Linked DNA regions of Homo sapiens. Changing the gene in region 1 together with any one later gene gives a genetic interaction. Each region holds a gene or a part of one and is shown on either strand. Other genes may lie near its edges. The genes, in order: PRPF18 and CACTIN.

The links.
Region 2: changes in PRPF18 (region 1) and CACTIN together harm fitness more than expected from each alone (negative genetic interaction), as found in Homo sapiens cells (one large-scale study listed by BioGRID).

What each region holds. Positions count from the first base shown.
Region 1 is NC_000010.11:13,624,965-13,628,478, forward strand, and holds part of PRPF18 (pre-mRNA-splicing factor 18), read left to right. Parts: intron 1-3,514.
Region 2 is NC_000019.10:3,610,089-3,613,728, reverse strand, and holds the end of CACTIN (splicing factor Cactin), read left to right. Parts: exon of another isoform or gene 1-142; coding exon 143-265; exon of another isoform or gene 266-363; coding exon 364-671; exon of another isoform or gene 672-944; intron 945-1,315; coding exon 1,316-1,806; 3' UTR 1,807-3,084; downstream 3,085-3,640. UniProt on the Homo sapiens protein: Plays a role in pre-mRNA splicing by facilitating excision of a subset of introns. Required for the splicing of CDCA5/Sororin, a regulator of sister chromatid cohesion. Involved in the regulation of innate immune response.

The DNA.
Region 1 (3,514 bases):
AACACACAGAAAAAAAGACCTTCATAGAAACAGAATTATAGAGAACAGAAAAAAATTTCATTGAGAATGATAATTAATATCCTTAGAGGCCAAGCGTGGTGGCTCATGCCTGTAATCCCACCACTTTAGGAGGCTGAGGTGGGAGGGGTGCTTGAGACCGGGAGTTCTAGACCAGCCTGGGCAAAATAGATCCCTTCTCTACAAAAAATAAAAAATTTAGCTGGACGTGGTGGTGCATGCCTATTCAGGAGGCTGAGGTAGGAGGATTGCTTGAGCCCAGGAGTTTGAGGCTGCAGTGAGCTAGGATCGTGCCACTGCACTCCAGCCTGGGTGACAGACGGGTCTGAAAACAAAACAAACAAAAAAATTCTTAGGTAACGTTGTAGCCATGAAATAAGAACATTAGGCTATAAAAAAGTTTGAGAATCAAAATGAACTCTTAAAAATTAGCAAAAATTTAAATCAGCAAAAATTTAGTAATTACATTAGTGGGTTAGAAGATAAAGTTGAAATATGAAAAGCAGGAAAGGTAAGAAAATAAGAGTCAATCTATAACGTTTATAGCCATTACAACAGAAAAGGGAAGATAGGAAATAAAGAATTAATGTAAGAAAACGTCCCAGACCTGAAGGACGTGAGTTTGTAGAATGAAAAGAATTCACTTAATACAGCGCAAATGAATAGGAAGAGTTCACATCAAGGCACAAAAGAATGCATGTTGGAAGGCCAAAGCTAAAGAGAAGATTTCAAAGACTTCAGAGAAAAGGTCGCTTACAAAGGTGCAGGAATTAAAATACTGTCATACTTCTCACTGATAGCACTAGAAGGTAGAAGACAGTAGAGCAGTACCTTTGCAATAGCTAGGGAAATATTGTCCAACTCAGAATTCTCTTCCTTTCTGAACCATCAAGTGAAGGGTAAATATAGGCTAATGACATCTCCCATGCACACATTCTCTGTAGTCATTATCGTCATAGCTGACACTTAAGTAGTGCTTACTGTGCTTCCCTTCAGTACTTTACAGCCACAATATGAGATGGACACTCACATTTCCCTGTTTTGTAAGTGGGGAAGAGGCGTAGAGAAGTGAGTTCTCAAGGTCACATGGCTAGTCAGTGGTAGAATTGGGATTGGAATGTGGGCAGTCTTGACTCTACCTGAGGATGTCCTCCATCCAAAGAAAAAGATCCAAGAGCTGAGATCCACCACAGAGCAAGGCGAGAGGAATCCCCAGGCTGGAGCTGCAGGGATGTCATGCTCCAGGATGGTAGCAGTACAAGTGGGTCCAGGTTAGAGTAGATGGTTGAAGGACTCCAGGAAGAAATGGAAGAGCTTATATTCCCTGGCATGTCTGATCAGATCCTGAGTGATGTTTGGGCATGTGAGGGTAGTCTCATGTTGGAGAATGGATTAGAAAAACAAAACAAAAAGGGGAAAAAAACTTATGAGAGGTCATCATCATAATATGTTATGTGGGTTTGCTTTGAACGATATTTGTGTAGCCTTTATAAGGAAAACCCTGAATATTGATTTCACTAAAAATGTGGTTTGGGGAGGATGTGGGAGAAAGTGCTTTTGAGGCGTGTGCGTGCATATGTGGGGCCAGTGGACAGTGGTGTAAGAGTGAGATATCCTCTGCTTCATAGTAGGAAGTCAGGAGATATCACTAATATCTGGTGGAAAAACCAAGCACTGTCAGTATAGTATTTAGAAATGTGGCAATAAATGCCAGAGGAAACACTTAAAACGTTTGAAAAGGGTTGCCTGTGGAGAGCTGGAATTAGGATTTGGAAAGAGTGAGGTAGAGGACTGCTATTATTTGATACAAGAATCGTGTGATTTTTTTTTTTTCCCCTCAAACAGTGTACACAGAAAACCCGGAATTATCCTTGGCTTTTTTCTTCCTGTCACAACCCATATCCTATCCATGTCAAAGCTTGATGGTTCTATATTCAAAGTATGTCTGGAGCCCGATCCCTTCTCACCACCTTCCTTGCTGCCACTGGGTCCAGCCACCACCTCTCATCTGAATTATTCCAGTGTCTTCTCTCTGGTCCCTGAGTTTCTCTTATTGCTCCTCTCCAGTTTCTTAGCAGCATTCCCCAGACTGATCCAGTTCACATACAGTCAGATCGTGTTGCTCTGTTGTTCAGAACCCTGCAGGGGCTTCCTAGTTCACAGAGTCCAAGCCAAAGTCCTTCAGGTTGCCCCACACGTCCACTTACCCCACTTGCCTGCTTTATTTTCTCCAAAGCACTTAGCATCGTTGAAAATTTTTTTTTATGAATTTATTTTGTTTCTTGCCTGTCTTCCCTTACCACAATTCGATCTCAGGAGGGTGGGATTTTTTCTGGCTTCTTCGCTACTGTATTTCCAGAGCCTAGAACAGTATGTATAGTAGGCACTGAATAAACATTTGTTAGATAAGGGTATTGCCTTTATATAAATAAAAAGCCAATTAAAAATACCACAAGTTTTTAAGCCATTTGCCATAAGCTAAGCTAAGCAGCTCATTGTTTTACTGGCTTAAGCATCCATAAGCAGTTTGAAACTGAAATCCTGAGGGGTCTAATTGAAAAGATTTGTTTCCATCTGGAAAATAACGATATTCTGTCCTGAGATTACACACCTATCTCTGCCATGCACTCTCAAATCTTTTTTACAAAAATGTATCATACCGCTCTGTGGTAACTACTTATGACTAAAACAATTGAGTTTCACAACCCTTGGCAGCTAAGATTTCAGGGAGAACACTAGTATATGTTTTTAAATCATAGAATCTGCTTAGTGAGTATAAATAGGCATCACACACGTCTTCTGTAAGGAGCACACACCTAAGATTCCAATTCTTCTGACATGGGGAAAACCACCTCCAAGGCAAACCATCAGTTTGCCTTCCGCTTGCGCATAACAATTCTTGCCATGCTCTGCTGCTGAGTGAAGCTATTTGTATTTCATCAGGGTGTTCTCTTGCCTGACTTTGCCCCTCTTCTCACCTATTCCTTCAGGAACCTTAAGATGCCAAATTAGTGCTATCATCTATATTTCCATGGCTACCGATCAAAGTTCTGCATACACATGATTAGAATTCACAGCAGGATAAGCTGGACTATGTGATGGAATGGTCTTTATCCCAAAGCAAATACCTGATTACACAGGGAACAACAACAACAAAAAGGAGCCAAGTGAATGACGTGTGCAAAAGCCCTTCTTGTGAATCAGTTGAAAGATAACCTCCCTCCACACCCCTAATTCCTAAATCTCATAATGTGGGCAATCCTTGAATCCACCAAGGACTTTAAATACTTCACAGTCTTGTTTCTCTGATGTGGAATCTGTTAGATTATGGCTCCATTCATAGAAGTATGTCATTTGTCCCTTAATATCCTCAGGGATTGGTTCCAGGACCCTGCAGATACCAAAATCTGGATGCTCAAGTCCCTGATAGAAAATGACATAGTATTTGCATATAATCTATGCACATCCTCCTGTATACTTTAAATCATCTCTAGAT
Region 2 (3,640 bases), on another chromosome or scaffold:
TGGGCAAAGGTCCCAGCCAGAGCCGTGGCTGCTCGCCACCTTCTCAGGGTCCTTGCAGCAATAAGGGGCGTGAGAATCTCGGTGGGGGTGGGGCGCGGAGCCCCTTCGCCTCCATGCGGGTGACCCCGGCTCTGCGTCCCAGGCTGCGTGAGCGCCACCAGGACGTGCTGCGGCAGAAGCTGTACAAACTGAAGCAGGAGCAGGGCGTGGAGAGCGAGCCGCTGTTCCCCATCCTCAAGCAGGAGCCCCAGTCCCCCAGCCGCAGGTAGGCCCGGCCGGCACCCCGGGGACGCCGATGCAGACGCGGAGCAGGATGGAGGGGCCGTGGGCAGCCTCCGCGCCTCCAACGCTCTCTCCTCCCAGCCTGGAGCCTGAGGACGCGGCGCCCACCCCGCCCGGGCCCTCCTCGGAGGGCGGCCCCGCGGAGGCCGAGGTGGACGGCGCGACCCCGACAGAGGGCGACGGCGACGGGGACGGTGAGGGCGAGGGCGAGGGCGAGGCGGTGCTCATGGAGGAGGACCTGATCCAGCAGAGCCTGGACGACTACGACGCCGGCAGGTACAGCCCGCGGCTGCTCACGGCGCACGAGCTGCCACTGGACGCGCACGTGCTGGAACCGGATGAGGACCTGCAGCGCCTGCAGCTCTCGCGCCAGCAGCTCCAGGTCACGGGTAAGGGCGGGGCTGGAGGCCAGGGGGTGGGGCCAGTGGGGCGAGCTGGGGGCGGGGCTTCTCCAGCCTCATTTCCCGGCCGAAGCCGCTGGCGTCAGTGGGGAGCTGCTTGCTGCTTCTCCCCCGGGTCTCTGAGCGTGCATTCCGTCACCTGCACGCGCACTGGGGCGTTCCTTCATTCATCCTGGGCTTGCTGGCCCACTGGCCTTGGGGCCACAGGTGGTGGAAGCTTTTACCGGCCGCTGTCCGAGCACTCCCTGGGCAGCCTCCGTCCTAAGACAGAGGAGAAAATACTGGCTTCAGAAAACCCCTGGGCCAGGACCCCCTCGGGGGTCATGCGTGGGGCTGGATCCCGCAGCCAGGCCCTAACCACCAGGTTCTCCTGTCGCTCGGCGGGGAAGCGCGCTGCGCTTGGTCCCCACCCAGGAGGACGATAGACATGAAGACCAAGGTCCGGGGCTCGGGGCGGATGGTGTGGGTCTCCGGGTCGCCCAGGCCCTGTCCCCTCCCCATGTGCCTTAGCTCGCCCCAGCCTGTTTTCCTTTTGCGGGAGGCACCAGCGGCCGCCCCTGCCAGAGAGGCTAGGAGGGAGGCCAGGACCCAGGGGGAGGCCGAGGCCCGGGTGAACGCCGTCCCGCCCGCAGGAGACGCCAGCGAGAGCGCCGAGGACATCTTCTTCCGGCGGGCCAAGGAGGGCATGGGCCAGGACGAGGCGCAGTTCAGCGTGGAGATGCCACTCACCGGCAAGGCCTACCTGTGGGCCGACAAGTACCGGCCACGCAAGCCGCGCTTCTTCAACCGCGTGCACACGGGCTTCGAGTGGAACAAGTACAACCAGACGCACTACGACTTTGACAACCCACCGCCCAAGATCGTGCAGGGATACAAGTTCAACATCTTCTACCCCGACCTCATCGACAAGCGCTCCACGCCCGAGTACTTCCTGGAGGCCTGCGCCGACAACAAGGATTTCGCCATCCTGCGCTTCCACGCGGGGCCGCCCTACGAGGACATCGCTTTCAAGATCGTCAACCGCGAGTGGGAATACTCGCACCGCCACGGCTTCCGCTGCCAGTTTGCCAACGGCATCTTCCAGCTGTGGTTTCACTTCAAGCGCTACCGCTATCGGCGGTGACGGCCCTGGGGAACGGCAGGCAGGTGTCCTCGGGGGCACAGTAAAGGGGCTTCGGTGAAGCTGGTGGTCACTCCGGGGCCGCTGTCTGGGCTGCAGGGCCGCGGGTTCACGTCCCACCTCAGGCCGCATCTTTCTTTCGCCAGGCCTCAGTTTCCTCCTATATAAAAGGGGGGTCACCATTGAGCCTGCCATGGTGAGCTGAGGAGACACTGGGACAGGCTGGCCTAGGGTCCTGATGCAACGGAGGGGGCGCTAGGGGCATCTTTCGAGCACGAGGGTGGCCAGCAGCCGCCAGCTGACCTCACCGTCCAGGCGGACACTCTCCACCGCCCCTCAGCCAGGCTGGGTGGGGCCCACAGGGCCTGCCCCAAGTGGCGGCCACACAGGGTGTTGTGGAGATGGGCCAGAGGGGCCTGGGCTTGGCGGTGCCAGGCTCGTGAGAAGCAGGAAACTCAAGGCCAGCCCTGCCACATCACGGGGCACCCACTGGGCGTGAGGCAGAGCCCGCGGCTGTGGGGCAGCTCCAGCCCTGCCCACAGGCCACCCTCGCCCGCACAGGCAGCACTGAGGCCGGGACCCTGCTGGCGCCCGATCCGCCACTGCAGAAGAGACCCTCTGTGGACACCCACACTCTGCAGGGACTGGCCCCCAACTCACCCCGTGCTGGCTGGTGGGGTCCATTTCCCCGCAGCGGGTATGGAGGATGCGTCGAGGTCCCTGTCTCTGTCAAGGTCGTGGGAACCAAAAGTCACTGAGCCGTCCTCCCCCCACCTCTGAGCACAGGGCCTGGAGGGCAGGGGCTCCCCGAAGGCTGGGGGTTGGAGAAGGGTGAGGGGCTTCCCCCAGGGATCCCCCCACCTGGCCTGCTCACGGGGCCTTGGAGCATGAGACCAGTGACCCCGAGTTTTGCCCATATCAGGACAGTGGCTCCTTCTCACTCCCCTTTCTCAGGCCAGGAGGGCCGAGGGCCACACGGGTGCCACAGCCCAGGTCGGAGTGGCCCAGCCGGCAGGCTTGTTCTTCAGCATCCGACGGGAACATCTCCAACAGAAGCAAAACGGAAAGTGCCTCCCGGACCCCCAGAGGGCCACCCAACCTCACCAGTCACCAGCCCCAGACCACCCACAGCCCCTCCCAGACACCCCGCCTCATCTGGAAATAGTTCCGTTTGTTTCTCTAAAAAGACTTGTAGGTGGGAAAAAAAATCTTTTGTTCTCATGGAATTGGCCTATTGGCAAGATCGCATGTTTTTTTAATAAACGTTGTATTTTAGAATAATCTTAGGTTTGCAGAAATGCAGAGAGTGTAACGTGTCCGACGCCCCACACCCGCTGCCCTAGTTGCTGCTGGCATTTGTGACACAGCGCATTTGTCCCAAGGGAAGAGCCTGGGAAACAACACGGCACCCAACTGGGGCCCGGTGGTCCCTTGGGAGCTGTGTTAGTGCCCGGATCTGTCTTTGCCCCCCACCCCTCTGCCTTGCCTCCCACAGTGGGGGTGACAGTCCATTTCCCAGACGACAGGAGGGAGGGTACAAGGGTGGACACAGCTGCTGGCCTGGGCCCAGGCTCTCATGGGGGCAGCGCTTGGCCATGCCTGGGGGCATTCGTGGTGGTCCCACCTTGGGGCTGCTCCTGGCGTGGAGTGAGTGGAGGCCAGGGATGCTGCCCAATGTGCTTCAGTGCCCAGGATGAGCCTCCCCAAATGTCCTCACTGCAGTAGGCAGAGGTGCAAGGCAGATCCTGCACTCCCCTGGGGCACTGGTCACCTCCCAGCCCCCACCTCTAACAGGATCCCGGAAGTCTGTGGCACAGGGCTTGGGAACTGGCCAGGG